Homo sapiens: one gene and its partners. The protein of the gene in region 1 purifies or fractionates together with the protein of each later gene. This does not show direct contact. Each region holds a gene or a part of one and is shown in the gene's direction. Other genes may lie near its edges. The genes, in order: PDCD11, CEBPZ, ISG20L2, SPTY2D1, RPF2, BMS1 and NOC3L.

Region 1 (4,817 bases):
TTTTCCTGCTTCTGCCTTCCAAGTAGCTGGGATTACAGGTGCCCACCAACATGCCAGGCTTTTTTTTTTTTTTTTTTTTGAGTAGTAGAGACAGAGTTTTACCATGTTGGCCAGGCTGGTCTTGAACTCCTGACCTTAAGTGATCCACCTGCCTCGGCCTCCCAAAGTGCTGCGATTACAGGTGTGAGCCACCGCACCTGGCCAAGGATACTTTACTCTTTTGAAAGATTTTCAGGGGTACCTCTTAAGGTGTGTGTGACATAAAGGCACCTGGGAGGGGTGAGTGCAGCTGAGCTTTTGGCCCATGTTCCTCTCGCCCAGCTGTGTGACCATCTGGAGGAAGGGACACCTTTCCCACTCCACACTACACATTGAAGGCCTTAGTCTCCAGTGTGAAGATGACTGCACTTGTTTTTATTCTCTCAGCACACTTAGACAGGGAAATTGATCATCCTGAGCTACTGAGTACAGGTTTTGCAGACTTCTGAGGTTTTTGAGGTGTTAAGGGACCAGAATGTCTTTGAAATTATTACCTCCCCCACCCCCATGTCATTGAGTCCTGCACTTTCAGATGGGAACAATCCCAGCAGTCCCCTAGCAGAGCCTCCTGGTGTGCCTGGCACGTCAGCCGAGGCCTATTGAGGGGATGGGACTCACCAAAGTCATGGAAGACAGCGAGCAAATGGCGTGCAGCTGATTGCTGCTGCAGATCATTCATCAGTATTTCTTCCCCTCTGTAGGCCTGTCTCCCTGGTGTTTTGCCTGGGAAAATCTCATTTGCATCCCCTGCCAGAAACATTTTAAAAATGGGAGCAGAGGGGAGGGCCCCAGAAACAAGCCCAGTGAGGGGCAGAGGGTTCCCGTGGGTTGTTAGGGGTGAGGACAGCCCTGGTGTCTGCCTGGCTTGCTGTGAATGTGCCTTCTTGACTGGGTGCCCTCTCCTGGAGGCTCTGTTTTTTTTGTTGTTGTTGTTTGTTTTTGTTTTTGTTTTTTTTTTTTGAGATGGAGTCTCACTCTGTCGCCCAGGCTGGAGTGCAGTGGCGCAATCTCGGCTTACAGCAACCTCTGCCTCCCGGATTCAAGTGATTCTCCTGCCCCAGCCTCCCGAGTAGCTGGAATTGCAGGTGCATGCCACCACTCCTGGCTAATTTTTGTATTTTTAGTAGAGTCAGGGTTTCACCATGTTGGTCAGGCTGGTCTGGAACTCCTGACCCCATGATCTGCCCGCCTCGGCCTCCCGAAGTGCTGGGATTACAGGCGTGAGCCACTGCTCCCAGCCAATCCGGAGGCTCTGTTTTTATGGAAGGGAAGTAGAGCTGTGTTCAGAGAGGGCTTGGGGGAGCTTCCTAGGCCCCATTTCCCCCTACTCACGTACCCCTTTCCAGGAACATCAAGTGGGTTGTCTTAATGAAGACCTTTCCTCTTCTCATCTCCTGCCTGTTCTTCTGTTCAGATCATGAGTGACAAATTTGTGACCTCCACAAGTGACCACTTTGTTGAGGGCCAGACAGTAGCGGCAAAGGTGACCAATGTGGATGAGGAGAAGCAGCGGATGCTGCTGTCACTGCGGCTGTCGGACTGTGGTCTGGGGGACTTGGCTATCACCAGCCTCCTCCTCCTGAATCAGTGCCTGGAGGAGCTGCAGGGCGTGCGCAGCCTTATGAGCAACCGAGGTGGGGCACCTGTGGGGCAGGGGAGGTGGGCCAGGGGTGGGAGTATGTGTTGTAAATTACACCTGTTGTTAGGTGAGTTGTTGGGCTTCCCAGAACATAAGAAAAAAAAATTTGGGGCCGGGCGCGGTGGCTCACGCCTGTAATCCCAGCACTTTGGGAGGCCGAGGCGGGTGGATCATGAGGTCAGGAGATCGAGACCATCCTGGCTAACAAGGTGAAACCCCGTCTCTACTAAAAATACAAAAAAAAATTAGCCGGGCGCGGTGGCGGGCGCCTGTAGTCCCAGCTACTCGGGAGGCTGAGGCAGGAGAATGGCGTGAACCCGGGAAGCGGAGCTTGCAGTGAGCCGAGATTGCGTCACTGCAGCCCGCAGTCCGGCCTGGGTGACAGAGTGAGACTCCGTCTCAAAAAAAAAAAAAAAAAAAGAAAAAAAAAATTGGGTTAACTTTTTTTTTAATGGAAGTATGACCTGCATAAAGTGCACAATTTTATTATTATTATTATTATTATTATTATTATTATTATTATTATTGAGACCAAGTTGCACTCTGTCGCCTGGGATGGAGTGTGGTGGTGCGATCTTGGCCACTGCAACTTCCACCCCCCAGGTTCAAGCGATTCTCCTTCCTCAGCCTCCGGAGTAGCTAGGATTACAGGCATCTGCCACCATGTCTGGCTAATTTTTGTATTTTTAGAGAAGACAGGGTTTCGCCATGTTGGCCAGGCTGGTCTCGAACTCCTGACCTCAAGTGATCCACCCGCCCTGGCCTCCCAAAGTGCTGGGATTACAGGCGTGAGCCACTGCGCCCGGCCAAAGTGCACAGTTATTATGTGTGCAGCTCAATAAATGTTTATATTACACCCCTTTAAGATAAAGGTCATTACGAGCATCCTAGATGTCCTCTTCTCCCCACTGCCAGTCCAGAGTCAAAATTTCCCTTAGTTCTGTGGCTTTATATTTGCATTTGCTGTGAATTCACTCGCCTTTTCACCTTTCATTCCTTTATTCAGCAGATGAAATGGAACTGGGACCTGCCAGGCTTTGTGAGGGGTTATTATTCTGACCCTCTTAGACTTTGAACCATTGTGTGGGGTTGTTGTAACTTTAATGGAATTTCATAGCAGGAGGCTTGAGAGGGGACAGTGAAAATTCAGAAACCAAAGGAAAGCCTGTCTTCCTGGTATTTGTTGGCTACTCCCATGAATTATGGTCAGGTAGGATTATTAGCAAGGGGCTTAGGTCTGTCTGCTTGTGACAAGAGTTTTCATGGATACTGAACATTTTTGCAAAAAGTGATTTTACCTTGTCAGTGGTTCCAGTGCTCCACTGTCCTCCGTGGTGATAGCACACTGCCAGAGGAAAAGAACAGTGAGAGTTCTTTCATGGTACTAATCCGTGTTTCCTTTGGATCTCTGGCAGACTCTGTGTTGATCCAGACGCTGGCCGAGATGACCCCAGGAATGTTCCTTGACCTAGTGGTGCAGGAGGTGTTGGAAGATGGCTCTGTGGTATTCAGTGGGGGTCCAGTGCCCGACCTGGTCCTGAAAGCCAGCAGATACCATCGCGCAGGTGAGTGCTTCTGTCTTACCCATTGTGGTTGGTGGGAGGACCCTTTGTCCATTGCTCCCTCTCCTGGATATAGAATTTCTAAATACTTACGGTAGGTGAGTTGATTCGGTAGAGATTTTTGGCATGCCTATCTTGTGTGAATGCAAAGGCTTAGGTATGAATCCTTTAATTGTTACAATTGGGTAAATCTAGATTTTTATATATTAGGTTACATAAATTAAGGCCTACCTGAACTTGAACTATGGGAGGTAGACCCTTGATTTCCCTAATTATGGCCCGTATGGACCCAGGACATGTGTCCTCTTTGCTTTTTTGGATCTAAGGGGTAGCAGCTACATGTGAGAGGTGCTGCTCTCCCTTCACTCTGTTCCAGAAGGATAATCACACTGTGGTTCTGCACTGCAGGGCAGGAGGTGGAATCTGGGCAGAAAAAGAAGGTTGTTATCTTAAATGTTGATCTTTTGAAGTTGGAAGTGCACGTTTCCCTTCACCAGGACTTGGTGAATAGAAAAGCTAGAAAGGTAAGCTTGCTCCTGACTTCCATTTCCATGGTTTCACATGATGTACCCTTCAACCCCACTCCAGTTCAGGGATTCCAACTCAGATGCCTGTAGCAAGGGTAGCCCTATGTCTGGATGGATCCAGGACACCCCCGGTTTAGACCTCTTGTCCTGGTGTGGTTCATAGTGCTGACTTCTGTTCTGGTTCCGGTGATAAGTTACATGGGCACTCCATCTTTAGGGCCAGACAGATAAATAGTGTGCAGGAGTGGAGCTGGCTGTGTGGGTAGGGAGTGGCTGGCCTGGGACTCTGACGAGCTGGAGAGTGCATGCCCAGCCCCTGTGGGGCTGAGACTGTTCAGTCCCGCCCAATTGTTGCCGGGTGGGAATCTGGGGCTACTGCTGCTAAATCTTTGATTTTTAAGAGAAGGCAGAATTTGGATTTTTATTTGAAATAAAAGCTGAAAATGTTGGAAACTTATTTTTTTAAAAACATCCCATGAGCCAAACAGCATGTCTGTGGGCAGTTCAGACCTCCAAGCTGTGCGTCCACACCCTCGCCTGCCTTGTCTTCTGGACACTTTTGTGTGACATAAGAATGGGTTTGAGGGAAAAATTATTATTTTTCTCTGGGTGATGAATATATTTGGTTATTGTCTAAAGCACTTATTAGGCACCTAGTTGCACAGAGTATGGTGCAGTGTAGATATAATCCTTAATTTCCAGTTGCTTACAGTATTAAGAGTTTAGGACAGAGAGAGAATGGAAAGCAATACTAACCTCTCATTCAGTTTTCTAGCAGGACCCTGTACCATTTTATCACCTAAGGGAAGCTTGGGCATATAAGAGCATGAGCACAATTTGGATTTTGAGGAAAGAGAGGCTAGGTGCCTTGCACACAATAAGCTCTCAGTAATGACTCTATTCATTGCTTGGGTTGAAGAGTGATTAATTGGGGGTGGGGGAGCTGCAGGACAGATTCAGGAACCACAGTGTCTCTAAGCTGAGAGAGCTGTTAGAGGTTGCAAGGCTGTGCATCAGAATTATCTCAATAACTTGTAAAATTCAGATTTA
Region 2 (4,817 bases), on another chromosome or scaffold:
AATACATGTTGAGCTGAAATGCTGCCATTTTTTGATAGTAATTAGCAGTTTATAAAAGTTAATCAGTATTCATCATAGCCCAGCATAGATGAAGGTGAATATTTTATCTTGTAAATTAGCAAGGAACACCCAGAATTGTCTCTAGACTGTTGTCTGACCTTTCTGTCCTTTCACATACCTCCAGCATGCACATGCCTGCCCAACATTCTTCTTACTTATTCTGAACCACAGCAGAAGTTTCTTGTTTTAAGGGGTTTTATATTATTTGGTCTTATTAATGAAGCTATTTAGAAAATTTTGTACTTGCACAAAATATTAGAACTGTGCCAATTCTTAGAGTCTTTTTCTCAGTCTGTCCTCAAGCCTATGCTAGTGGAATTACAAAACCCACATGGAATAGCAGTATAGTGCCTTACCATCAGAATAAAGATTTTAGCATATCTTGGAGTAATATTTTCCAGTCTTATTGTTTTTAAATTGCTTATTAGCAAATTTTTTCGTGTAACAGAACTTGAAGTCCACTCCAAAGTCAGTACTAAGAAAAGCAAGAGAAAAGGTACAGATGATTTTGACTTTGCTGGCTCATTTCAAGGTAAGAAAATACATTTAATATCTTTTAAAAGCAGTGTCCATGTGAAAGGTGTCATTATCATTTTGGGAAATGAACTCTCCTAAATTTGATTAATAAAATTCAGGGGTGGGGGGGGTTCTTTTTAAGAAAGATGTTAAGTGGAAATTATTTTCCACATTTTGAATTGTTTCTCGCATTCAGATATCTCTGGATCATCTTTTCATTCACTTTTTAAAAATTTGTTATCATTATTTCAGTTGTTTTTGGGGAACAGGTAGGGTGTTTGGTTACATAGGTAAGTTCTTTAGTAGTGATTTCTGAGATTTTGGTGCACCCATCACTCAAGCAGTACACTGCACCCAATGTGTACTCTTATCCCCCACTGCCTCCCACTCTTCCCCCCAAGTCCCCAGAGTCCATTATATCATTCTTAAGCCTTTGCATCCTCATTGCTTAGCTCCCATTTATAACTGAGAACATAGAATGTTTGGTTTTCCATTCCTGAATTACTTCGCTTAGAATAATGGTCTCCAGCTGTATTCAGGTTGCTGCGAATGCCATTATTTCTCTCCTTTTTATGGATGAGTAGCATTCCATGGTATATGTATACCACATTTTCTTTATCCACTCATTAGTTGATGGGCATTTAGGTTGGTTCCATATTTTTGCAATTGCAGATTGTGCTACTATAAATCTGTGTGTTTGTCTTTTTTATATAATGACTTATTTTCCTCTGGGTAGTACCCAGTGGTGGGATTGCTAGATCAAATGATAGTTCTACTTTCAGTTCTTTAAGGACTCTCCATACTGTTTACCATAGTGGTTGTACTAGTTTACATTCCCACCAGCAATGTAGAAGTGTTCCCTTATTACCACATCCATGCCAACATCTGAAATTTTTTTTATTTTTAAATTACGGCCATTCTTGCAGGAGTAAGGTGGTATTGCACTGTGGCTTTGATTTGCATTTCCCTGATAATCAGGGATGTTGAGCATTTCTTCATATGTTTCTTGACCATTTGTATATCTTTTGAGAATTGTCTGTTCATATCCTTAACACACTTTTTGATGGGATTGTTTTTTTCTTGCTGACTTTTTTGAGTTCCTTATAGATTCTGGACATTAGTCCTTTCTCAGATGCATAGTTTACGAAGATTTTCTCCCACTCTATGGGTTGTCTATTTACTCTGCTGATTATTTATTTTGCTATGCAGACGCTTTTTAGCTTAATTAAGTCCCATCTATTTGTTTTTGTTGCATTTGCATTTAGGTTCTTGGTCATGAACTCTACTTAAGCCAATGTCTAGAAGAGTTTTTCCAATGTTATATTCTAGAATTTTTACAGTTTCAGGTCTTATCTTTAAGTCTTCGATCCATCTTGAGTTTTCTGCATAAGGTGAGAAATGAGGATCCAGTTTAATTCTCCTACATGTGGCTTGCCAGTTATCCCAGCACCAATGGTTCAATAGGGTGTCCTTTCCCCACTTTGTTTTTGTTTACTTTGTCAAAGATCAGATGGTTGTAAGTATTTGGCTTTATTTCTGGGTTCTCTATTCTGTTCCATTGGTCTACGTGCCTGTTTTTGTACAAGTACCATGCTATTTTGGTAACAATAGCCTAGTAGTATAGTTTGAAGTCAGGTAATGAGATGCCTCTAGATTTGTTCTTTTTGTTTAGTCTTGCTTGGCTATGCAGGCTCTTATTTTGTTCCATATGAATTTCAGGATTTTTTTTCCTAGTTCTGTGAAGAATGATGATGGCATTTTGATGGGAATTACATTAAATTTATAGATTGCTTTTGGCAGTATGGTCATTTTCACAATATCGATTCTACCCATCCATGAACATGGGATGCGTTTCCATTTGTGTGTGTCTGTGGTTTCTTTCAGCAGTGTTTTGTAGTTTTCCTTTTAGAGATCTTTCACCTCCTTGATTAGGTGTATTCCTAAGTATTATTATTTTTTTTTTTTTTGGCAGGTGTTGTAAGGGGGGTAGAGTAATTGATTTGATTCTCAGCTTGGTTGCTGTTGGTGTATAGCAATGCTACTGGTTTGCGCACATTGATTTTGTATCCTGAAACTTTGCTGGATTTATTTATCAGATCTAGGATCTTTTTGGATGAGTCTTTAGGGTTTTCTAGGTATGCTATCATATCATCGGTGAATAGTGACAGTTTGACTTCCTCTTTACTGATTTGAATGCCCTTTCTTTCTCTTGTCCAGTTGCACTGGCTAGGATTTCCAGTACTATGTTGAATAGAAGTGGTGAAAGTGGGCATCCTTGTCTTGTTCCAGTTCTCAGGGGGAATGCTTTCAACTTTTCCCTGTTCAGTATAATGTTGGCTATGGGTTTATCATAGATGGCTTTCATTACTTTTAAGGTACGTCCCTTGTATGCCAGTTTTGCTGAGGGTTTAAATCATAAAGGATGCTTGATTTTGTCAAATGCTTTTTCTGCGTCTATTGAGATGATCATATGATTTTTGTTTTTAATTGTTTATGTGGTATATCATATTTATTGACTTGCGTATGTTAAACCAGCCCTATATCCCTGGCAAGAAACCCACTTGATCATGGTGTATTATCTTTTTGATATGCTGTTGGAGTTGGTTAGCTAGTATTTTGTTGAGGGTTTTTGCATCTGTGTGCATGAGGAATATTGGTCTCTAGTTTTCTTTTGTTATGTCATTTCCTGATTTTGGAATTAGGGCGATATTGGCTTCATTGAATGATTTAGGGAGGATTCCCTCTTTCCCTATCTTTTGGAATAGTTTCAGTAGGATTGGTACCAGTTCTTTGAATGTCTGATAGAATTCAGCTGTGAATCCATCTGGTCCTGGACTTTGTTTTGTTGGCAGTTTTTTTATTACTGTTTCAGTCGTGCTACTTGTTATTGGTCTGTTCAGAGTTTCCATTTCTTTCTGGTTTAATCTAGAAGGGTTGTATATTTCCAGGAATTTATCCATTTTTCTCTAGGTTTTCTAGTTTTTGTGCATAAAGGTGTTCATAGTAGCCTTGAATGATCTTTTGTATTTCTGTGGTATCGGTTGTAGTATCTCCCATTTCGTCTCTAATTGAGCTTATTCAGATCTTCTCTCTTCTTTTTTTGGTTAATCTTGCTAATGGTCTACCGATTTTCTTTATTTTTCCACAGAACCAGCTTTTTGTTTCATTTATCTTTTGTAGTGTTTGCTTCAGTTTTATTTAGTTCTGCTCTGATATTTGTTATTTCTTTTCTTCTGCTGGGTTTGAGTTTGATTTGTTCTTGTTTCTCTAGTTCCTTGAGGTGTGAGCTTAGATTGTCTGTTTATGCTCTTTCAGACTTTTTGATGTAGACATTTAATGCTGTGAACTTACTAAATGTAGTGCCGCTTTTGCTGTATCCCAGAGGTTTTGATGGGTTGTGTCACTATTGTTCAGTTCAAAAAATTTTAATTTCCATCTTGATTTCATTGTTGACACAAAGATCATTCAAGAGCAGATTATTAAATTTCCATGTATTTGTATATAGTTTTGAGGGTTCCTTTTGGAGTTAATTTCCAATTGTATTCCACTGTGGTGTGAGAGGGTACTTGATACAATTTCAGTTTTCTTAAGTTTATTGAGACTTGTTTTGTGGCCTACCATATGGTCTATCCTTGAGAATGCTCCGTGTGCTGGTGAAAATAATGTATATTCTGCAGTTTTTGGGTAGAATGTTCCGTAGGTATCTGTTAAGTCCATTTGTTCTAAGGTATAGTTTAAGTCCATTGTTTCTTTGTTGACTTTCTGTCTTGATGACCCGTCTAGGGCTGTCAGTGGAGTATTGAAGTCACCCACTATTATTGTGTTGCCATCTGTCTAATTTCTTAGGTCTAGTAGTAATGGTTTTATAAATTTGGAAGCTCTGGTGGTAGGTGCATATATATTTTGGATTATGACATTTCTTGTTGGACTAATCATTTTACTAGTATGTAATGTCCCTCTTTGTCTTTTTTAACTGTTGTTGCTTTAAAGTCTGTTTTGTCTGATATAAGAATAGCTAGTCCTGCTTGCTTTTGGTTTCCATTTGCATGGAATATCTTTTCCCACCCCTTTACCTTAAGTTTATGTGAGTCCTTATGTGTTACGTGAGTCTCCTGAACACAGCAGATTCTTGGTTGGTGGTCCAAATGTATCTTTTAAGAGGAGCATTTAGGCCATTTACATCCAACGTAGTATTTGAGATGTGAGGTACTATTCTATTCATCATGCTAGTTGTTGCTTGA
Region 3 (2,186 bases), on another chromosome or scaffold:
GAAGATGGGACGGGTCTGAGACAGCAAATCTGCCCAGCTTTGATGAGGGCTATATGTCGAGGTTAATAAGAAGTGAAGGTGGTGGTGGACAGTAAGTAGGTGAAGTCAGGAGTAACGAAATATCTAGTTCACGGGACTACGTCTGGTTTTCATCATAAAGCACTTCCCCAGTGCCAAGCTGGGGTTATGAGACTAAGGTATGTCCAGATGAGCCTAGCCCCTTCAGAGGGGGTCCCTTTGGGAGGCTATGCAGGACTGTCACTTTTGTTGAAAACCTGTTTGGAACCTCATTTGGGAATGGCCTTCAGAGCCTGTGGTGTGTTCTTCGGTTGTCCTCATTGGTAGCATGTCCTCCTACTTCAAGAGCCTGAAATGGCTAGGTGTGGTGACATGTGTCTGTAATCCCAGCTACTCAGGAGTTTGAGGTGAGAGCATTGCTTGAGCCCAGGAGTTTGAGGCCAGCCAACCTGGGAAAAATAGCAAGACCTCATCTCTTTTAAAAAATAAGTTACCTGAAGGCCAGGTGTGGTGGCTCACACCTGTAATCCCAGCACTTTGGGAGCCTGAAGCGGGCAGATCACAAGATCAGGAGTTCAAGACCAGCCTGGCCCATATGGTGAAACTCCGTCTCTACTAAAAATACAAAACTTAGCCAGGCATGGTGGCAGGTGCCAGTAGTCCCAGCTACTTGGGAGGCTGAGGCAGGAGAAACGCTTGAACCCGGGAGGCGGAGGTTGTAGTGAGCCAAGATCGCGCCAGTACACTCCAGCCTGGGCAACAGAGCAAGACTCCATCTCAAAAAAAAAAAACAGTTTCCTGAAATATTGAGAAGTTATTTTTATTTTACTTGGTTCCAAAACTAGTGTGAATAAGGTTGCTTCTGCAACTTTAGTTTATATGTGATTCTTAATTTTTTACGGTTTGTAGACTCTGAGAATTTGATGAAAGCCACAGATTCTCTTCCTCTAGTACCCATACACATCTAATTGCATGTAATTTTGGGCTTTTGTTAGCCTCCCTGGAGCCCGGGTCCCAGCCATGTGTCTAAGGCCAACATAATGGTAATAGTTAAAGGACTTCATGTAGCAAGCCAGAACTGAACTAAATACATGGACATCTCAAACATGAGTGTCATTTAGGACTGAAGGCAAATTAATGTCATGGGGTGGAGATCAATAAGAAGGTAAGGAGCCACTGGCAGTATGAGTCCAAACAGGGTATACCATGGAAATCACCTGTGGAAGAGGAAGGTGGATTCCAGAAGAAAGAAAACTTGTGGGAGTGAGCATTTCAAGGATGGAGAGGTAGGCAGTTGGTGAAAGAATCCAGAAGGGATTGATGGTCATGTTGGGCTTTCAGAATGCAGGGGTTCCACTTCAGTCTTCCTTCTCACCACTCTCTTCCCACACTTCTTCCAGATCTTGAAGATACTCACAGGGAAGATAGTGGTGGGGCATGCCATCCACAACGACTTCAAAGCCCTTCAGTACTTTCACCCCAAGTCCCTCACCCGTGACACCTCCCATATCCCCCCCCTCAACCGGAAGGCTGACTGCCCGGAGAATGCCACCATGTCTCTGAAGCATCTCACCAAGAAGCTGCTAAACCGGGATATCCAGGTAGCATCTCCCCACATCCCCCGCCCCCATCTTGGACATGGCTCTCGTTGATGCCCCTAGCCAGACTCTGATCTCAGAAGTCCTGTGGTTGTAGAGATCCAGGTGGGCTGCTGTGATGGGAAGAGCTCCATCTGTACACAGGATAATAATTCCTGTTGTCTACCTCATAGAATGTTTCAAAGTGTGCTTTGGAAAAGGGAAAAAGTCCTAAGTAGATATAAAACCCTAACTAAGGAAGAAAGCAGGTAGCAGTGGTGGTCCAAGAGACCGTGTAGTGGATGCAAGGACCGCTCGTATTTTACACGCTATATTTCAGCAAAGGGTGGCCCATCTGGCAGGAAGATGGGGACATATGTCACATATAGAGCAGTTAAGGAACTAGGGAAAGTGGAAGACTCAGAAGACCTGTCTTTGACCTGGTATGTTCTATCTCTACAGAACCTAATATGGCTTATACATACTGCCACAGAAAGGACTGAGGTAGACAGTGGCAAAGACTTCCTAGGAGTTGAACCCCTGAAATTACATAAGGAGTAGGACCCCACCAGAATTCTGTCTTTGTAGGCT
Region 4 (3,537 bases), on another chromosome or scaffold:
TTTTTGTTTGTTTTGTTTTTAAGAGATGGGGTCTTGCTTTGTTATCCAGGCTGGTCCCAAAGTCCTGGGCTCAAGCAATCCTCCTGCCTTAGCCTCACAAAGTGTTGGGATTATAGGTGTGAGCCACCATGCCCAGCCTATTTTCTTTTGTAAAATGAGAATATACTGTTTTACTCATTTAAGTATAATGAGGATTAAGACGTGTACAAGATGCCTAGTGCAGTGCCTCACATGTGTGGATACACAGTAAATGTTAGATGCTTTCCCTAATCCTGTTGTAGCAAATTCTTGCTTTTCTTTCTGCATCAGACACATCTCAATCTTGGTAACCTGTAACATTGCTGGCCTCAGGGATGTAGGTATATTACATTTCCTCTGATTTCTGTTTGGCTATCTGATAGTAAGCTAATGATACTTTCTCTATTGGGGTAAAAAGTAATTACTTTGTTTATAGTATTGTTGTTTTTTTTTTTTTTTTTTTTTAAGAGACAGGGTCTTGCTCTGTCGCCAAGGCTGGAGTGCGGTGGCATGGTCACGGCTCACTGCAACCCCCACCTCCCCGGGTTCAAGCGATTCTTCTGCCTCAGCTTCCCAAGTAGCTGGGACTACAGGTGTGCGCTACCACGCCCAGCTAATTTTTGTAATTTTTAGTAGAGATGGGGTTTCACCATATGTTGGCCAGGCTGGTCTCAAACTCCTGACCTCAGGTGATCCGCCTGGCTCGGCTTCCTAAAGTGCTGGGATTACAGGTGTGAGCCACTGTGCCCGGCCATAATGTTATTATAGGTAAATAATTCACTTCAGTCTCAAGCCAGAATACTATATCTTTTTCTCCCTCTTGCCCATAAAATTTCAAACTAAAGTGTTGGAAGAGAACAAGAATAGAATGTTAGTTAATGAATAAATGCTTCTTGCTGTTTATTTTTAAAAGCTATTGAGATAAACCTATATTTTATTATTTTAATGGAAATAGTAAGGTTTTTGTGGTGTGTGAGTTCTTTTTCCCACGACAATTTGAGTCTGTGGCCCCTGGTAAAAAAATATCCCTGCTAGTTTGTTTTCAGTGGTAAAGCCTTGAGGCATTTTGAGAGCATCAGCACAATCCATGTGAGCTCCCAGTTGGAATTTTCATTCTTTTTAAGGAAAGTGGTCATCTCATGTATATTGACAAATACCCTTTAAAAATTCTTTGGCAGCTTAAGACTGGGTATGCAAGAGGACTTAGAGGAAATGAGACGTGAAGAAGAAGAAATGCAACGTCGAAGGGCCAAGAAGCTGAAGAGGCGTTAGCTGCTGCTTTTATTTTTGTGAAATTCTAGAGCTGCTCTGCTGCAAGGATTTCCTGCCTTCAGACTGAAGAAGCCCCCTTATCATTTTAGATTTATACTTGGGTACTCAAGGAGAAGGAATGCATACTGTCATTTGCAGGCTGTCATTTGAGCATAAAATATTTTCAGATATTTTCCAGGGTGAAATCTGTAATGCAGATGATATAATGCCCACTTGTGCTCTTATGAAGTTAACTGTTCACAGATGCCAGCCTTGATCCTGATGAGCTATGCACTCTAATGTGGGGCCACTCACCAGTCAGCCAATCTTTTATTGTTCCTTTGCTACTTTGAAAGGAAAAAAAAGGTTGTCTCTTGATTTCTGTAATTCTTCTGCTGATCTGTGAGTAGGGCACTGCCCTGCTCCCAATCAAACTTAGTCTTTTTATGAGAAACCTGGACCTTCCATGAATGTTGCCAGCAATAAAGTGACTTGTCCTAATCTATGGATTGAGAACTTGAAAATGTAGAGTAGAATTTATAACTATCATATGGATGTCATCCTGTGACTTTGAAGTACAAAGTAGAATAAATTCTGTATTCATGGATTGGATGCTGAGCATTCTTACTCATTAATTTAGGTGGCTAGGAATTAATGAAAAAATTTTCAAGTTAAAATACAGGTTATAACAGTATAATATTCTTTTCTAAGTTTTCCTTTCAGATTTACTGTTATGTTGGCTTTAGTGTAAGACAAGGTCACTGTGCTGATTGATTTTTATCTAAAAAAATTCATTTTTATATCGAAGAAAAAATATTTTATTCAAACATTAGATTTGAAAGAGTAATAGTTTATAAAATAAGGAAGTAACATGTGAGGCTCTCCCCTCCTCCCCTCCCCCATCATAAAGATATTTTGAAATCCCAAGGTGCCCTCATACCTCTTGACATTAATGACTTCATTTTTTAGCTTGAATTTGTTAGCAAATATTAATGGCAGAAAACCAAAAACTAAATTTATGGTATCGAGAGCACCACCTTCTCTTTTTGCCCATATTGCACTTTGATTTCAAACTATGCACTGTGAAGAGATTTTTTTCCCCAGGTAGGAAGGGATGTTCCCTGTTATCGTTATTTTACTGAGCTGTGGAAACTCATTTTTACCCTTTTTAAAGTCATAAATATGGACTTAATAGCCCTTAACCTTCAAGTCCAAGCAGTTCCAATCAGGCTGACTTAGGATCATGCTGGAAGGAAGCCAAGTCTCAAGAACTGTCAGCAACAGAAAATGAGATATGATGCTAGAGAGCATTTGTCCTTGACTGTAAGTACAGAGGCTTAGGGGAAGTGAGACATAAGCTTGTAGGAATAATAAACGTTCTACAATAAACGTTTTGGCTATCTTAAGCCATTGTATGGGGGGGATTAGGAAGTAGGAGGGATTGTCCTACAACAGGCCCTTATACTTCAACAGCCCAAATATTTTGGTTTATTCCTTTTTATCCATAAAGTCTTTATTCTTCAAGTTTGGGTATTATAGATTACCATTGTTAGCCTCCCTTAATGGGACCATATGAGCCAGGCTTTTAAGACGGACTCATTTTGAATTGAGTTTCAAACTTTGAAAGTGCAAGGATTTAATTTTTAAGTTGAATCCCATGAAAGGTGTCATCATCACTAGGAATAACACCCTTTGTAACTACATATAGAACTGTTACAATGGTAGCAGAAAATCCTATTGATTTCATCTCACCCATTTCAGATACCTTCAGTGAAATTAAGGGTAGTGTGATGTCCCATGTAATAAAACAGGCTTAGAACATCAATTCCTCTGCTGCCATTTATGTGCTTTTATTCCCCCTTCAAAAATTTTTTATTGGATATATATATTTTTCAGTATTCAGACTCTGAAATCTGTCATTACAATCAAGTGCTTGTCACAGCTGAAAGATTTCTGGTGGCTTAAAGTTTACTAGCAGTAAATTTATGATATGGTACAGTTCTTTGTACAGAAAGGCACCATTATGTTAGAATAAATTTCCAGAACTTAGTGGGAAGAATCAGGTTTTAACCTTGTGTGTCTGTTACTTCTGAGTGCATTTCTATAATATAAATGTTGATTTGCGTCAACATTATAAAAGAGCACTTCTGTGGCTCATTTAAAAGAAAAAAAAGGTTAAGTCTTTTAAATTTTGGCCTTGTTTCCAAATCCTGTCTTCCATGTTGTTTTTCTGCACTTCCTGACCACTCTTATAAAAAGCTCACAAAC
Region 5 (4,817 bases), on another chromosome or scaffold:
CCTCCATAAATTACTCATCCAGTTAAAGAATTTTTACTATTTCATTTTTTCCTCTTTGGTGGCTTCTAAATCCTCTTTTTAATCACATCACATTCTATTTGGTGTAGAAAATCTACAACTGGTGAAAATACTTTTTATAGTAAGAGTTTCAACATTGCTGATGAGAATTGGTCTATACTTTCTATAGCTTATGTAAAATTATATTACTTCTCATGTGAATGTCCAGCTGGTAGTTTAATTTAGCCTTCATTTTATTTTTATTTATTTATTGTTTTGAGGGTCTTACTCTGTATCCCAGGCTGGAGTGTAGTGGCAAGAGCACGGCTCATGGCAGCCTGGACTTCCCTGGGCTCAAGTGATCCTTCCACCCCAGCCTCCCAAGTAGCTGGGACCATAGATGTGCACCACCACACCTGGCTAATTGTTTTGTATTTGGTTTGTTTGTTATTGTTTTCTTGAGACGGAGTCTCTGTCGCCCAGGCTGGAGTGCTGTGGCGCTATCTCAGCTCACTGCAACCTCCACCTCCTGGGTTCAAGCAATTTTCCTGTCTCAGCCCCGACTAGCTGGGACTACAGGCACACTGCACCTGGCTAATTTTTGTGTTTTTTAGTAGAGACAGGGTTTTACCATGTTGTCCAGGCTGGTCTCAAACTCCTGACCTCAAGTGATGCGCCTGCCTCAGCCTCCGAAAGTGCTGGGATTATAAGGGTGAGTCACCGTGCCCAGCCTGTTTTGTATTTTTTTGTAGAGACCGTGTCTCCCAGGCTGGTCTCAAACTCCTGGGCTCAAGCGATCTGCCCTTCTTGGCCTCCTAAAGTGCTGGGATTACAAGTGTAAGCCACCACACCTAGCCTATAGCCTTCATTTTTTTTTTATTGAGATGGCATCTCGCTCTCACCCAAGCTAGAGTGCAGTGGTGCAATCTCGGCTCACTACAACCTCTGTCTCTTGGGTTCAAACGATTATCCTACCTTAGCCTCTGGAGTAGCTGGGACTACAGGCGTGTACCACCACGCCCAGCTAATTTTTTCTATTTTTAGTAGAAACAGGGTTTCACCATGTTGGCCAGGCTGGTCTTGAACTCCTGACCTCAAGTGATCAGCCCCGTCTCTGCCTCTGAAAGTGGTGGGATTATAGGCGTGAACCACTGTGCCCAGCCCATAGCCTTCATTTTAAAATACTTTTTATAGGGTATAGTGGGAAAGGCACAGTGGTACAAATAAATTATAATTAAACTTATTTATTCATGAGACAAGGTCTTACTCTGTCACCCAGGCTGGAGTACAGTGGCACGATCATGGCTCACTGCAGCCTCCACCTTCTAGGCTCAAGCGATCCTCCTACCTCACGTTCCGAGTGGCTGGGACCATAGGCACTCACCAGCATGCCCAGCTAATTTTTAAAAGTTTTTTTTGGCCAGTTGCAGTGGCTCATGCCTGTAATCCCACCACTTTGGGAGGCCAAGGCGGGCAGATCACCTGAGGTCGGGAGTTCGAGACCGGCCTGACCAACATGGAGAAACCCCATCTCTACTAAAAATACAAAATTAGCCAGGCGTGGTGGCACATGCCTGTAGTCCCAGCTACTTGAGAGGTGGAGGTTGCGGTGAGCCGAGATAGCGCCATTGCACTCCAGCCTGGGCAGCAAGAGTGAAAGTCCGTCTCAAAAAAAAAAGGTTTTTTGTAGAGATGAGGTCTCACTGTGTTGCCCAGGCTGGTCTTGAACTCACTCCTGGCCTCAAGCTGTCTTCCTGCTTTGGCCTCCCAAAGTGCTGGGATTATAGGCATGAGCCGTCACACCTGGCCTTAAATTTATTTTGATTCAGGGTTGCTGGCCATCAGAAGTCTATTTTGGTTGCTTGGTTGGTTGTGTTGTGTTATGTTTTGTTTTGTTTTGTTTTCCTTTTGCAAGAGTAACTTTTAATTTTATTCTTTGCGTAGACTAATGTTAAAAAAGCCCTTTACATCATTCTTTTGCCATCTTTTATTTGGTAATGTAAATGAATGGAACAAATAATTTTTTTTTTAGTATAGAAGTCTAGAAGCTTAAAAATGTCATCTTAGCCAGGCCTGCACCTGTAGTCCCAGCTACTTGCAGGATGCCTTGAGCCCAAGAGTTTGAGTCCAGCCTAGGCAACACAGCGAGACCCTGTCTCTTTAAAAAGAAAAAAAAACCCACCTCTGTTTTTGCCTCTAATATCAGTATTCACAGACATCATTTTGGAACAGTTAATAAAATGTGAAAATAAATTAGTGTAAAGTATTGACTACTTTAAAATCAGTATAGGCCAGGCACAGTGGCTCTCACCTGTAATCCCAGCACTTTGGGAGGCTGAGGCAGGCGGATCATTTGAGGTCAGGAGTTTGAGACCAGCCTAACCAGCATGATGAAACCCAGTCTGTAAGAAAAATACAAAAAAACTAGCCAGGCATGGTGGTGTGCACCTGTAGTCCCAGCTACTTAGGAGGTTGAGGCAGGAGAATTGCTTGAACCCGGGAGGTGGAGGTTGCAGTGAGCTGAGATTGTGCCACTGCACTCCAGCCTGGATGACAGAGTGAGACTCCATCTCAAAAAAAATAAATAAAAATAAAAAACAAAATCAATATATAAACAGTTTAGACTTTGGTAATTATATAATTGCTTTTTTTTTTTTTTTTTAGAACAGTAAATGTCCTGAGGGAACAAAACCCATGCTGATATTTGCTGGCGATGATTTCGATGTAACAGAAGATTATAGAAGACTAAAAAGTCTTCTTATTGGTAAGTATTTTAGTATTTATTATCTTCAGGGTAGCTCAGGAAGACAGTCTCAGACTCTCACTGGTGGCACTTTGCTACTTTAGGTTTGTAACTTCTTTTTTCTCTTATTTTAAAAATAATATTTATATACTTAAAATAATGGAGTGCTTCACAAATTTGCATGCCATCCTTGCGCAGGGACCATGCTAATCTTCTCTGTATGGTTCCAGTTTTAGTATATGCGCTGCCGAAGCGAGCACAACTTCTTTTTCCTCCTTTTTTTGGACCTTTCTCTTTTTTTTTTCCCTTACCAGCAGCAGGAAAGCACCTAAGTATCTCGGGAGAGTTAAAGCAGCTGTTGTACTGTGTAGATGATTATTTCTGGATGTGTTAGTAACTTAGGTATTACTTGTATAGTGTTTTATAAAATTCCTGCACCCATCTCCTGTCATTCCTAGCATCATTTAAAATTAAATTTAGAAAGTTGAGGGATTAAAATTTCAAGATTGTTTGTATCACCGACTTCCAACTCAAAAACCTTAATTAGTTTTTCTGAGTTGAATATACAAGGCCTTTCACAATATATAACCAATGTAGCTTGGCCTTCTTGATCTCCTATTGCCTTCTTTTTTTCCATTAGAAAGGGTTTATTGCCAATATATTATTCACATTTCTATTGTGTATTCTGATATTGCTCTTATTTATCCAGTTTCTACTATTCATTTAAGTGTCAGATCATCAAGTTTCTTTTCCGGGAAGCCCTCAGTGACCTTCCTGGCTCCTTTTTTTTTTTTTTTTTTAAAGATAGAGTCTTGCTCTGTTGCCCAGGCTGGAGCACAATGGTGTGATCTCGGCCCACTGCAACCTCCACCTCCCGGGTTCAAGCGATTCTCCTGCCTAAGCCTCCCGAGTAGCTGGGATTACAGGTGCCCGTCACCATGCTGACTAATTTCTTTTGAGACGGAGTCTCGCTCTGTCGCCCAAGCTAGAGTGCAGTGGCGCGATCTCGGCTCACTGCAAGCTCCACCTCCCGGGTTCACACCGTTCTCCTTCCTCAGCCTCCCGAGTAGCTGGGACTACAGGCACCTGCCACCATGCCCAGCTTATTTTTGTATTTTTAGTAGAGATGGAGTTTCACTGTGTTAGCCAGGATGGTCTCAATCTCCTGACCTCGTGATCCACCCGCCTCGCCCTCCCAAAGTGCTGGGATTGCAGGTGTGAGCCACTGCGCCAGGCCTAATTTTTTTTTTATTTTTAGTAGAGACAGGGTTTTGCTATGTTGGCCAGGCTGGTCTTGAACTCCTGACTTCAGGCGATCCACCCTCCTTGGCCTCCCAAAATGCTGGGATTACAGGCATGAGCCACTGCGACAGGCCCTGGCTCATTTTTACTTTATTACCATCATCATCCTAAGTGCCAGGCATATAGTAGGCACTTCATATACACTGCTTCATTCTAACAAGAACCTTGTGAGGTTGTTCTACAGATAACCCACACCTAGCAAACTATGCTAGTTCTAAATGATTTGTGTAATGAATATAAGGACTACATCCTTTTCTATTTTTTTCTCCTTTATGAGGCAAGTCGTGTTCTGATGCCCAGGCTGGAGTGCAGTAGCTCAATCATGGCTCATTGCAGCCTCAACCTCCCAGGCTCAAGTGATCCTCCCACCTCAGCCTCCTAAGTAGCTGGGACCATAGGCACATGCCACTATGCCTGGCTAATTTTTAAAATTTTTTGTAAGATGGGGTCTCACTGTGTTGCCCAGGCTGGTCTTGAACTTCAGGGCTTAAGCAATCCTCCCACTTCAGCCCTCAGAGTGCTGGGATTACAGGTGTGAGCCCCCACACCCAGCCTCCATGATTTTTAAAAGGTTATTAGTACTTAGCATTCTGCAATTATATTTGCCAGCTCTTTTATAACTCTGGAAAGTAATTTAATTTTCCAAGAGATTGGTACTAATTTAAAGGGTCTTGGGTCTGTCTCTCTGTCCCTCAATTTTTTTTTTTTTCTTTTTTTTTTTTCTTTTTAGACAGCATCTTGCTCTGTCACCCAGGCTGGAGTGTACTGGTGTGAT
Region 6 (4,817 bases), about 61 Mb from region 1:
CTTGAGTCCTTCGTGTGTGCCTTCTGTTTCCTTCCTTTGTGCTCTTCCTCGTGTGGTTTTCTCAGCCTGGAATTCCCTTTTTCCACCTGCCAGAATCCAAGCCACAGTAAAAATCCCAGAGCACAGGCTCGCCCTCTTCCAGAAAGGGATTTTCTGAATATGTTCTTCACTCTTCCCCGACCCCAGGTGGACGTCATCTCCCTGTCTGGTGTCTTATGGAATGAATATCACTTTCAGCCTAGAGACACAGTTGTGTGTCTGCCCCTTTTCCTCTGGTGGATGGTGAATGGTGCCTCCTTATTTCTGCATTTTCTAGTTTTCTAAATGACGTGCTTAATGGACAAGAGTGTGATGAATCATTGACACATGAAAGGAGGTATAGGAACTTTTGGCATTCATTTCTGCTGTGATTGAATTTATTTTTCTAGGATGGAAGATTTGACAAACCCAGAGGATATCCGAACAAACATCAAATGTGACCGGAAGGTGTCACTTTATGGTTATTTAAGAGGAGCACACTTGAAAAATAAAAGCCAAATTCACATGCCAGGTATTCTCTTGTTGTAGAACATACTAGAATTACACATAGGATTCTTGGGATGGCTTCATTTCTCAGGAAAACTGAAAAATGACCAAACAAGGGAAGATGGCCTTGCTGGAGGTTTTAAAAGTAAGCCACCTATGTGTAGGCCTGCAAAGGTGTTACTGAATCCCCTCTTCTCTGACCTCTTGTCTTGTAGCTAGGGGGCCACTGTTCCAGTGTGGCACAATGCCCTTCTTTAGTGTTATGGGTTAAGCCCTTGGACTGTGGATCATATTTAACCCCCTAGTCAATGGTAGATGCTTCTGACTTCTTGTCAGCTGAAGCTGGCTTTTGGGTTCTGTCTTCCAGGGGTAGGAGATTTTGCCGTGAGTGACATCAGTTTCCTCCCAGACCCTTGCGCTCTTCCTGAACAACAAAAGAAGCGCTGTTTAAATGAGAAGGAGAAGCTGGTTTATGCGCCTCTTTCTGGAGTTGGGGGTGTGCTGTATGACAAAGACGCTGTCTATGTTGACCTTGGTGGCAGCCACGTTTTTCAGGTATCGGTGAGACGGGAGTCATTTCTCTGAACTTTCAGTATTCTTTCTGAATCTATTTTTTAATCACAAAAAGTAATGTACTCAGCTTTTATTTATTGAAGATTTTTCTCTTGTACTTATAATAAAGGCCCAAATGCATATTGTAAATATATAGGATAAAAATAATACTTTTTTTTTCATTGTACCAAGCAGAAGAGTCCTCTCCTTCATTCCTCCTTGATCCATGGCCCCAGCACAGGCATTGCTGCTGTGTGGCGCCTGCACGGCCCATCCCCGTTTCTACAAAATCAGTGTGCTTTCCAGCTTTCATTGGTCTTTTTCTCATTCACAATGGTCTCCTCATGCTGTATTTTAAAGTGGATTTCAAATATTTATTTCTTTGTTCTGAAGTGGAATTTTATTGGGTTAAAATCGGCTTATTTTAAAATATTAGAAAAGCTAGCATTGTTGTAGCTTTGGAGCTGAGGTTTTTCTAGCTAGGTTGTTTAGGTTATCAGGTTATATACTCCCTGAACTTTGGAAAAGTTTAATGGAGATGGGGATCCATTTCAAGCTTTGTTGTAAGGATTTTCTTCTCTGCTTTTTGAGGCATTAAGAAAGGTTCTTAGGAAATGTGTCTAAGATAATTTTGAGAAACTGAGTGAAGCTCGTGTCTCTCCAGGATCTTTGTGCTTTCCTCACGTGCCCTTTCTTGGTGGTCTTGACAGGATGAAGTGGGGCCCACCCATGAGCTGGTCCAGAGTCTCATCTCTACCCACTCCACCATTGATGCCAAGATGGCTTCAAGTCGAGTGACGCTGTTTTCTGATTCCAAGCCACTTGGGTCAGAGGATATAGATAATCAAGGGTAAGTCTGCTTTTTTTCTATTTTTAATAAAAAGATGTATTACAAAAGATCATATCACCCATAATTCAGCCATCATAACACATTTCGGTGGGATTCATTCTATGTTGTTTTGTTTTTCTTTGTGTGTGCATGTGTCTCTGAGGGCTCTTCACTTACCTGACATTACAAGGGAGTCTTTTCTTGAAATAAATTGCAGGATGCATTTTTCAACAGACCCCAAATATTCCTCAAATACCATGCCATCTTCCATAGGTTGCCTTTTGTTTTTTAAGAGACCTGAAGCCACTTGGCTTTCTTTTGGTGGCCAAAACACTAGAGCAAAGTCAGGGAGTTTGTGGCTGTCCAGAAGCCACATGCCTTGTCTCTGAAAGTTTTATTTAGATTGTGTTGTATTATCTCCTCTGGGTAGGTTTCCGTGGATGTATGGCTCATGTGAATTATTTTCCAGTCTGGGTTGGGGATTTGTATACCTTTATATGCAGTGGATGTTTGCAAAACATTGGTTTTGTTGTATTGATTTATGACTCCCAGTAAAATTTATCTGAAAATTTTGAGATTATCTAGTATGTAATTTGGTACAATGTGCATAAACTACCTAGCAGAATGCCTGACAGGTACGAAGTGTTCGCCGAAAGATCACTCCTTTATAATGGGATTACTAGCTATTTTCACTTTTGCATATCCTTCTAGTCATCTTTGTCTACAAGAATACTCTCCTCTAATATAGTTACAGTTAAAATACATAATTTTATTTCTATATTATCATTTCCTTCTTTTTTTTTTTATTATACTTTAAGTTTTAGGGTACATGTGCACAATGTGCAGGTTAGTTACATATGTATACATGTGCCATGCTGGTGCGCTGCACCCACTAACTTGTCATCTAGCATTAGGTATATCTCCCAATGCTATCCCTCCCCGCTCTGCCCACCCCACAACAGTCCCCAGAGTGTGATGTTCCCCTTCCTGTGTCCATGTGTTCTCATTGTTCAATTCCCACCTATGAGTGAGAATATGCGGTGTTTGGTTTTTTGTTCTTGTGATAGTTTACTGAGAATGATGATTTCCAATTTCATCCATGTCCCTACAAAGGACATGAACTCATCCTTTTTTATGGCTGCATAGTATTCCATGGTGTATATGTGCCACATTTTCTTAATCCAGTCTATCATTGTTGGACATTTGGGTTGGTTCCAAGTCTTTGCTATTGTGAATAGTGCGGCAATAAACATACGTTTGCATGTGTCTTTATAGCAGCATGATTTATAGTCCTTTGTCATTTCCTTCTTCTATACAGTCTTTATGTAGTCATCATTTTGTTATTATTGGTGTATTCTTTTTTTTTTGTGACAAGATCTTGCTTTGTCTCCCAGGCTGGAGTGCAGTGGTATGATCTTGGCTCACTTCAGCCTTGAACTCCCAGGCTCAAGTGGTCCTCCTGCTTCAGCCCCCCAAGTAGCTGGGACTACAGGAGTGCGCCACCACTCCTAGCTAATTTTTTTTTTTTTTTCTAGAGATTAGGTCTCACCATGTTGCCCAGGCTGGTCTCAAACTCCTGGGCTCAAGCAATCCTCCTGCCTTGGCCTCCCAAAGTTCTGGGATTACAGATGTGAGCCACTACCCCTGGCCTATTATTGCTGTATTCTAACTTACCCGTCTCTTATGGTATGATTTTCAGTTTTTTCAAATTTATGTTTTCTTAATTTTATATATCTTGCTACATTAAATAGCTTCATACAGTTTTCTTTTATCCTGTGATTTTAGCTTCCTGATGATTCTTCTGTATCAGTTATAGCACTGGTGACTTAAAATGGATGTTCTTCCTCTGTCATTCCTCCTACGTTTGTTAGCTGGCATTTTTAACAAAGAGCTTTCTCTTCTCCCCTTTATTTCGGTATCACTGCTGACTAATGCACTTGTGTTTTGTTCCATGGGTTATTTTCCATCACTATCATTATTCTTCCTGATGCCTATGCTGGCCCAGATTTGGCTGCAGGAGCCTTCAGCCTGTCTCCTGTGTCCTTTCAACTGTCTCTGTTAGTCTTTGAGCATTTCTCACTTTCTGACAGAACAAGAGGATCCAGGCTCATTTTGCCTTCTTTCTGCTTTGGGCCTGGACTTACCCATTTCTCTTAAGGATCATGTGTTTTTAGCTTAGAAATTAATCAGCTTTCCAAAAGATCTACAAAACAGTAACTTCTCTTTTGAGCAATTTTTTTCTAAAATTAGATTTTTGTTTTTTAAGGGTTATTCCTTTATTCTCTCTATAAGTTCTTTTGAAGTGTGGTGTTAGGGAACCATGCCCGAGTTTGCTTCTTAACTCTTCCAATGTTTATCAAATCATATTTTCCCTATGCTATGTCATCTTAAACAATTCCTTGACATTTTCTATTTCTTTGTATTTTCATTGACTATATTGCCATTTCTAGATTAGCTGATTAATGTACAAATTGAATTATTTTGTATTTCCTTGGTAATACAGGCTAATGATGCCAAAGGAGGAAAAACAAATGGACTTGAACACTGGTCGAATGCGTCGGAAAGCCATTTTCGGAGATGAAGATGAATCTGGAGATAGTGATGATGAAGAAGATGATGAAATGTCTGAAGATGACGGGTTGGAAAACGGCTCTAGTGATGAGGAAGCAGAAGAGGAGGAAAATGCTGAGATGACTGATCAGTATATGGCTGTTAAGGGCATCAAACGACGGAAACTTGAGTTGGAAGAAGACAGTGAAATGGATTTGCCAGCATTTGCTGACAGTGACGATGACCTTGAGAGGAGCTCAGCGGAAGAAGGGGAAGCGGAGGAAGCTGATGAAAGCAGTGAAGAAGAGGACTGCACTGCAGGAGAGAAGGGCATTTCAGGATCAAAGGCTGCTGGAGAAGG
Region 7 (4,817 bases), 9.1 Mb from region 1:
AATTTAATTTTACTTTGATTTTACCCATATCTAGAAAATATTCAATTAGTCTTATAGCAAGCTTGATGATTTGGGCCAGAATTATAGATTATCTCAGGTACCAATTTGTACTGTGAGGACAACTGAAGCTACAAGGTTCAGGTGATTTTCTTTTCACTAAATTTTGTTGTTTCTAAAATTAGAGCATATTAACTGTTCTTGATTAGCTTTCTTTTTTAATGTATCTTCTTTTGTATGTGAAATAAAACAGAAAAGTTCAGATATCAAAGATGTGAAGTTACATGGTTTATAACAAAGCGCATACCTATAAAACTACTATTCAGACAAGGAAAAAAAACTACTGCTAGCTTCCAGAATCCTCCCTTGTGCTCACCTCAATCACTAATTGTGCTCTTCCCATAAAAGTAACTGCTATCCTGAGTTTTATCGTAATCACCTCCTAGCATTTCTTTACAGTTTTTACCACTTAAGTATATATCACAGTTTTAATACATATGTTTTCCATATAGTTACTGATAGTAACAAAGATGAAGAGGATCAAGAAGAAGAGAGGGAACTTGAGGAAGGTAATATGTCTTTACAGTTACTAAATTGTTAATTGAGAATTTTTTTGCATAATAGTAAATGTGAGTTAATTTTAGATGAAATCTGGAAGGTACATTTTGGAGTACTGCTCATTTCAAGGTCACTTTGAACATTTTTCCACATTTGAAAGCTTCATCTTGTGGAATTATTAATAGATTCTTTATTTTTTTGATTATGGAAAAATTTACACAATCATATTTGTAATATCTAGGCATACAAGAAGTGTGTCTTGTTAATTATTACTGTTCTGAATTCCTTTTAATTGTAAGAGAAAGACTACTTACAAATAACTGTTAACTTTTTAGCTTTAAATTACAAAAGCGATTCTGTAGTATGAAGTCATTTTGGTTTGTTTCTAGCACAATTATACTTGCATATGTTTCATATAATTGAATGTCAGTTTCTATTACCTAGGACCATTTAATCAAAGTTGAACTGAAATAATGCATTTTATTGTTTGAAATTATATTAGTTTGGAATTTGTGACAGAACAATCTAGTTAAATTTTACTTTCGCTTAGCAGACCTCATTAATAGCAAAAATGAATTACAGGTCAACTGTTTAACTGTTTTCAGTCACCCATCATAAAACCATTACAGATTATGCTAGTGTTGATTAAATCTAGTTCCCTATGAATTTCCTAAGGTGGACATGTTTTTCTGTAGCCCAAAACTATGAAGTATTAGTTTGTATAAAGTAATATATAGTGTTAAAAACAAAGGAGAATATTCTGTACTTAAAAAAAAACTAAATAGGATTATCCTATTTGTTAATTAATATGAATTATTTTGGGCTTATTATCATAGAAGCTAAGAATATGAGCTCTAGGCTGGTTGCACTGGCTCATGCCTGTAATCCCAGCACTTTGGGATGCTGAGGTGGGAGGATCACTTGAGCCCAGGAGTTTGAGACCAGTCTGGGCCACATGGTGAAACCCCGTCTCTACAAAAAACACAAAAATTAGCTGGGTATTGTGGCTCACCTATGGTCTCAGCTACTGGGGAGGCTGAGGTGGGAGGATCAATTGAACCTGGGAGGTGGAGGCTGTAGTAAGCTGTGATAGTGCCACTGTACTCCAGCCTAGGTGACCAAGTGAGACCCTGTCTCAAAAAAAAAAAAAAAAAGTTCTAGAATCAGACTGCCTGAGTTTGAATCCTATTTTCCTTTGGTTTATGAGCTTGAATCCTATTTTCCTTTGGTTTATGAGCTTAGCCAAGTTATTTTCTCTTCCTTTGCTTCAGTTTTCTTATCTATAAAATGGGTCCAATGATAGTACCTGTATTGTTGAGGAGATGATGTGTAGTAGTAAATACAAAATTCTTAGCTGTTGTCATTATTATTATTACTGTAAAAATATTTTATTAAGATTCTTGGATACTTGTAAGCAGAGGAATATGTAAGGGAACATCTAATCTGTTTTAGAGATCATTGAAGATCCTATTCAAGAGCTGACCATAGAAGAACATTTGATTGAGAGAAAGAAGAAATTACAGGAGAAGAAGATGCATATTGCAGCCTTGGCATCTGCCATATTATCAGATCCAGAAAATAATGTAGGTAGTATTAATTTCTTTAGGCTCTTTGTATTAGGTATGGTGTAAATGCCTAATTGTTAAGATTCCCTTGTTACCTATAAGCATACACTAAAAGGAAAAGCATTAACTAAACATAGTAGCTGGGTTAGAGTAAGAGAGTAGACAGAATCTTAGCTTAATGCTATGTCTGAACTTAATTTCTTTTGTAATCCTAGAAAAGTTACTTAAACTCTCTGAATCTTATTCTCCTCATCTTCATATATGAAAATACTGGACATCTTATAACTCTAAAAATGTTTAAATTTATAAAATTGTATTAGGGAGGAGGAACCTGTTTGCAAATTTGCTTGACATACCCGTGGAGTTTTTAAAAAGCGCGCTACAGGGGAAGTGTATGGAATTAGTTCAGGAATATTTGTAAGTTGAAAATATTTTAAGTGAACTAGAGCCAAAGTTAAAGTAAAGTGTTATTGTGCCATGTGTATAGTCGTTGAGTTAGTGATGGTTATAACACATGAACTAGAGAAATCTGAGGTTTAATCTTGGCCCTGATAAGTACTATCTGTGAGACTTTGGGTAAGTTATTTATCCAAGACTCTTTCATCTCTAAAAAAGGACAGTGTCTTTTTCAAAACTTTGTGGTGAGGATTATATGATGAAATATACGTGAAGTCATATAAAATGATACTATTATTATTGTTATGCTGGTGTCCCCAGCATACTATTATAACAAGTATTTGTTTATGAAATGATAGAATAGCTTATTTACATTTATAGAAGCAAATTTCATGTGGGAATGCTTTGGAGTAGTACTTGTCCTTTTCTAATGAAGTGAGGGGAAGATCTAGAGCAGAATTAGGGAAGAGAGATTTGGAATATTTCTTATGTGTATTCTCTCAATCATTACAAAACCATAGGCATAAGAGATTGATCTAATTTTACAGCTGGAAAATTGAGCCTTAAAAAACCCAAGTGATTTGTTCCAGATTTTAACAGCCACTGGATTGGAACCCAGATCTTCTACTCAGGAACCTGTGCTCACAGACAATAGTAGTTCATCAAAGCAGTCGAAACCATCATAGAAATTATCTTTGAAGCTCAAGTTAATGTGGCTATATTACATGTAATTCCTGATTAATTCATGTGTATGACTGATATATTTGGTTAATGTATATAACATTTTAGTATATTTTGAAAAGCGTTTTTAGAAGAATAGGACACACGTACTTTAGGAAAATCCAGCAAAAAAGAATTTCCCAAAATAGCTAAATAATAAATGTAAACTAATTTTTTAAGGTCTGTATGTTTCTAACTATATGACAAAAATATGATTACTGATATAGTTTGGAGGTGTGTCCCCTCCAAATCTTATGTTGAAATGTGACCTCTGATGTTGGAAGTGGGCCTGGTGGGAGGTGTTTAGATTATAGGGGTGGATCCCTCATGAATGGCTTGGTGCCATCCTTGTGGTAACAAGTGACTTCTCACTCTGGTAGTTCATGTGAGAGCTGGTTGTTTAAAAGAGCTTAGAACCTCCCCTATCTTTCCTGTGACACCCTGGCTCCCCCTTTGCCTTCTGCCTTGATCGTAAGTTTCCTGAGGCCTCACCAGGAGTAGACGCAGGCACCGAGCTTCCTCTACAGCCTGCAGAACTATAAGCCAAAATAAACCTCTTTTCTTTATAAATTATCCAGCCTCAGGCATTTCTTTCTAGCAATACAAGAACGGACTAATACAATTACTTTATGACTTTAGTGACTTATCTCTTGGTAAAGTGAGCAGGGTCTGGAGTTTGGTGTGGCATGACTAGACTTGGAGTCATTGTGTGAATTCCGCTTGTTTTGCCGGATGTGGGGCTGTTGTCTTTTGTTCATAATTGTTTCGTCATGATTTCTCCAGCTTTATAAGCTATTTCTTTAACAGATTAAAAAATTGAAAGAATTACGTTCTATGTTGATGGAACAAGATCCTGATGTGGCTGTTACTGTTCGAAAGCTGGTAATTGTTTCTCTGATGGAGTTATTTAAAGATATTACTCCTTCATATAAAATCCGGCCCCTCACAGAAGCAGAAAAATCTACTAAGGTAATGCTAGATTGCTAGATATAATTACTATCTAAAATAACTAAACATTTTGGAGAGATAGACTTTTTTTTTTTGAGGCAGAGTTTTACTCTGTCGCCCAGACTAGAGTGCAGTGGCGTGATCTTGGCTCACTGCAACCTCTGCCTTCCGGGTTCAAGTGATTCTCCTGCCTCAGCCCCCTCAGTAGCTGGGATCACAGGCATGCGCCACCAGGCCCAGCTAATTTTTGTGCTTTTAGTAGAGACGGGGTTTCCCCACGTTGGCCAGGCTGGTCTCAAACACCTGACCTCAGGTGATCTACCCGCCTCTGCCTCACAAAGTGCTGAGATTACAGGCATGAGCCACCACGCCTGGCCTAAACGACTGCCGCGTTTTTTGTTTTTTGTTTTTTTAAATAGTACTGGGTGTATACTAGACACACATATTTTATACTAATTTTGGGCTTTTAATGTTCTGATTTTAAAAAATGATTGACCTTTTTGGTCTTTTCAGACCCGAAAAGAAACCCAGAAGTTAAGAGAATTTGAAGAAGGCCTGGTTAGCCAATACAAGTTTTATTTGGAAAATCTGGAACAAATGGTTAAAGGTATATTAAACATATCTTCAAAGTTT

Evidence for each region.
Region 2: the proteins of PDCD11 (region 1) and CEBPZ purify together in Homo sapiens (affinity purification with mass spectrometry; one large-scale study listed by BioGRID and IntAct). This does not show direct contact.
Region 3: the proteins of PDCD11 (region 1) and ISG20L2 purify together in Homo sapiens (affinity purification with mass spectrometry; one large-scale study listed by BioGRID and IntAct). This does not show direct contact.
Region 4: the proteins of PDCD11 (region 1) and SPTY2D1 purify together in Homo sapiens (affinity purification with mass spectrometry; one large-scale study listed by BioGRID and IntAct). This does not show direct contact.
Region 5: the proteins of PDCD11 (region 1) and RPF2 purify together in Homo sapiens (affinity purification with mass spectrometry; one large-scale study listed by BioGRID and IntAct). This does not show direct contact.
Region 6: the proteins of PDCD11 (region 1) and BMS1 purify together in Homo sapiens (affinity purification with mass spectrometry; one large-scale study listed by BioGRID and IntAct). This does not show direct contact.
Region 7: the proteins of PDCD11 (region 1) and NOC3L purify together in Homo sapiens (affinity purification with mass spectrometry; one large-scale study listed by BioGRID and IntAct). This does not show direct contact.

Annotation. Positions count from the first base shown.
Region 1 is NC_000010.11:103,419,895-103,424,711, forward strand, and holds part of PDCD11 (protein RRP5 homolog), read left to right. Parts: intron 1-1,453; coding exon 1,454-1,673; intron 1,674-3,093; coding exon 3,094-3,243; intron 3,244-3,648; coding exon 3,649-3,764; intron 3,765-4,817. UniProt on the Homo sapiens protein: Essential for the generation of mature 18S rRNA, specifically necessary for cleavages at sites A0, 1 and 2 of the 47S precursor. Directly interacts with U3 snoRNA. Involved in the biogenesis of rRNA.
Region 2 is NC_000002.12:37,206,774-37,211,590, reverse strand, and holds part of CEBPZ (CCAAT/enhancer-binding protein zeta), read left to right. Parts: intron 1-416; exon of another isoform or gene 417-508; coding exon 509-592; exon of another isoform or gene 593-4,817. UniProt on the Homo sapiens protein: Stimulates transcription from the HSP70 promoter.
Region 3 is NC_000001.11:156,723,581-156,725,766, reverse strand, and holds part of ISG20L2 (interferon-stimulated 20 kDa exonuclease-like 2), read left to right. Parts: exon of another isoform or gene 1-1,202; coding exon of another isoform or gene 1,203-1,304; intron 1,305-1,418; coding exon 1,419-1,619; intron 1,620-2,186. UniProt on the Homo sapiens protein: 3'-> 5'-exoribonuclease involved in ribosome biogenesis in the processing of the 12S pre-rRNA. Displays a strong specificity for a 3'-end containing a free hydroxyl group.
Region 4 is NC_000011.10:18,607,614-18,611,150, reverse strand, and holds part of SPTY2D1 (protein SPT2 homolog), read left to right. Parts: intron 1-1,196; coding exon 1,197-1,290; 3' UTR 1,291-3,537. UniProt on the Homo sapiens protein: Histone chaperone that stabilizes pre-existing histone tetramers and regulates replication-independent histone exchange on chromatin.
Region 5 is NC_000006.12:111,005,377-111,010,193, forward strand, and holds part of RPF2 (ribosome production factor 2 homolog), read left to right. Parts: intron 1-2,661; coding exon 2,662-2,761; intron 2,762-4,817. UniProt on the Homo sapiens protein: Involved in ribosomal large subunit assembly. May regulate the localization of the 5S RNP/5S ribonucleoprotein particle to the nucleolus.
Region 6 is NC_000010.11:42,792,065-42,796,881, forward strand, and holds part of BMS1 (ribosome biogenesis protein BMS1 homolog), read left to right. Parts: intron 1-428; coding exon 429-550; intron 551-892; coding exon 893-1,080; intron 1,081-1,787; coding exon 1,788-1,927; intron 1,928-4,409; coding exon 4,410-4,817. UniProt on the Homo sapiens protein: GTPase required for the synthesis of 40S ribosomal subunits and for processing of pre-ribosomal RNA (pre-rRNA) at sites A0, A1, and A2.
Region 7 is NC_000010.11:94,352,284-94,357,100, reverse strand, and holds part of NOC3L (nucleolar complex protein 3 homolog), read left to right. Parts: intron 1-509; coding exon 510-566; intron 567-2,007; coding exon 2,008-2,138; intron 2,139-4,043; coding exon 4,044-4,205; intron 4,206-4,697; coding exon 4,698-4,791; intron 4,792-4,817. UniProt on the Homo sapiens protein: May be required for adipogenesis.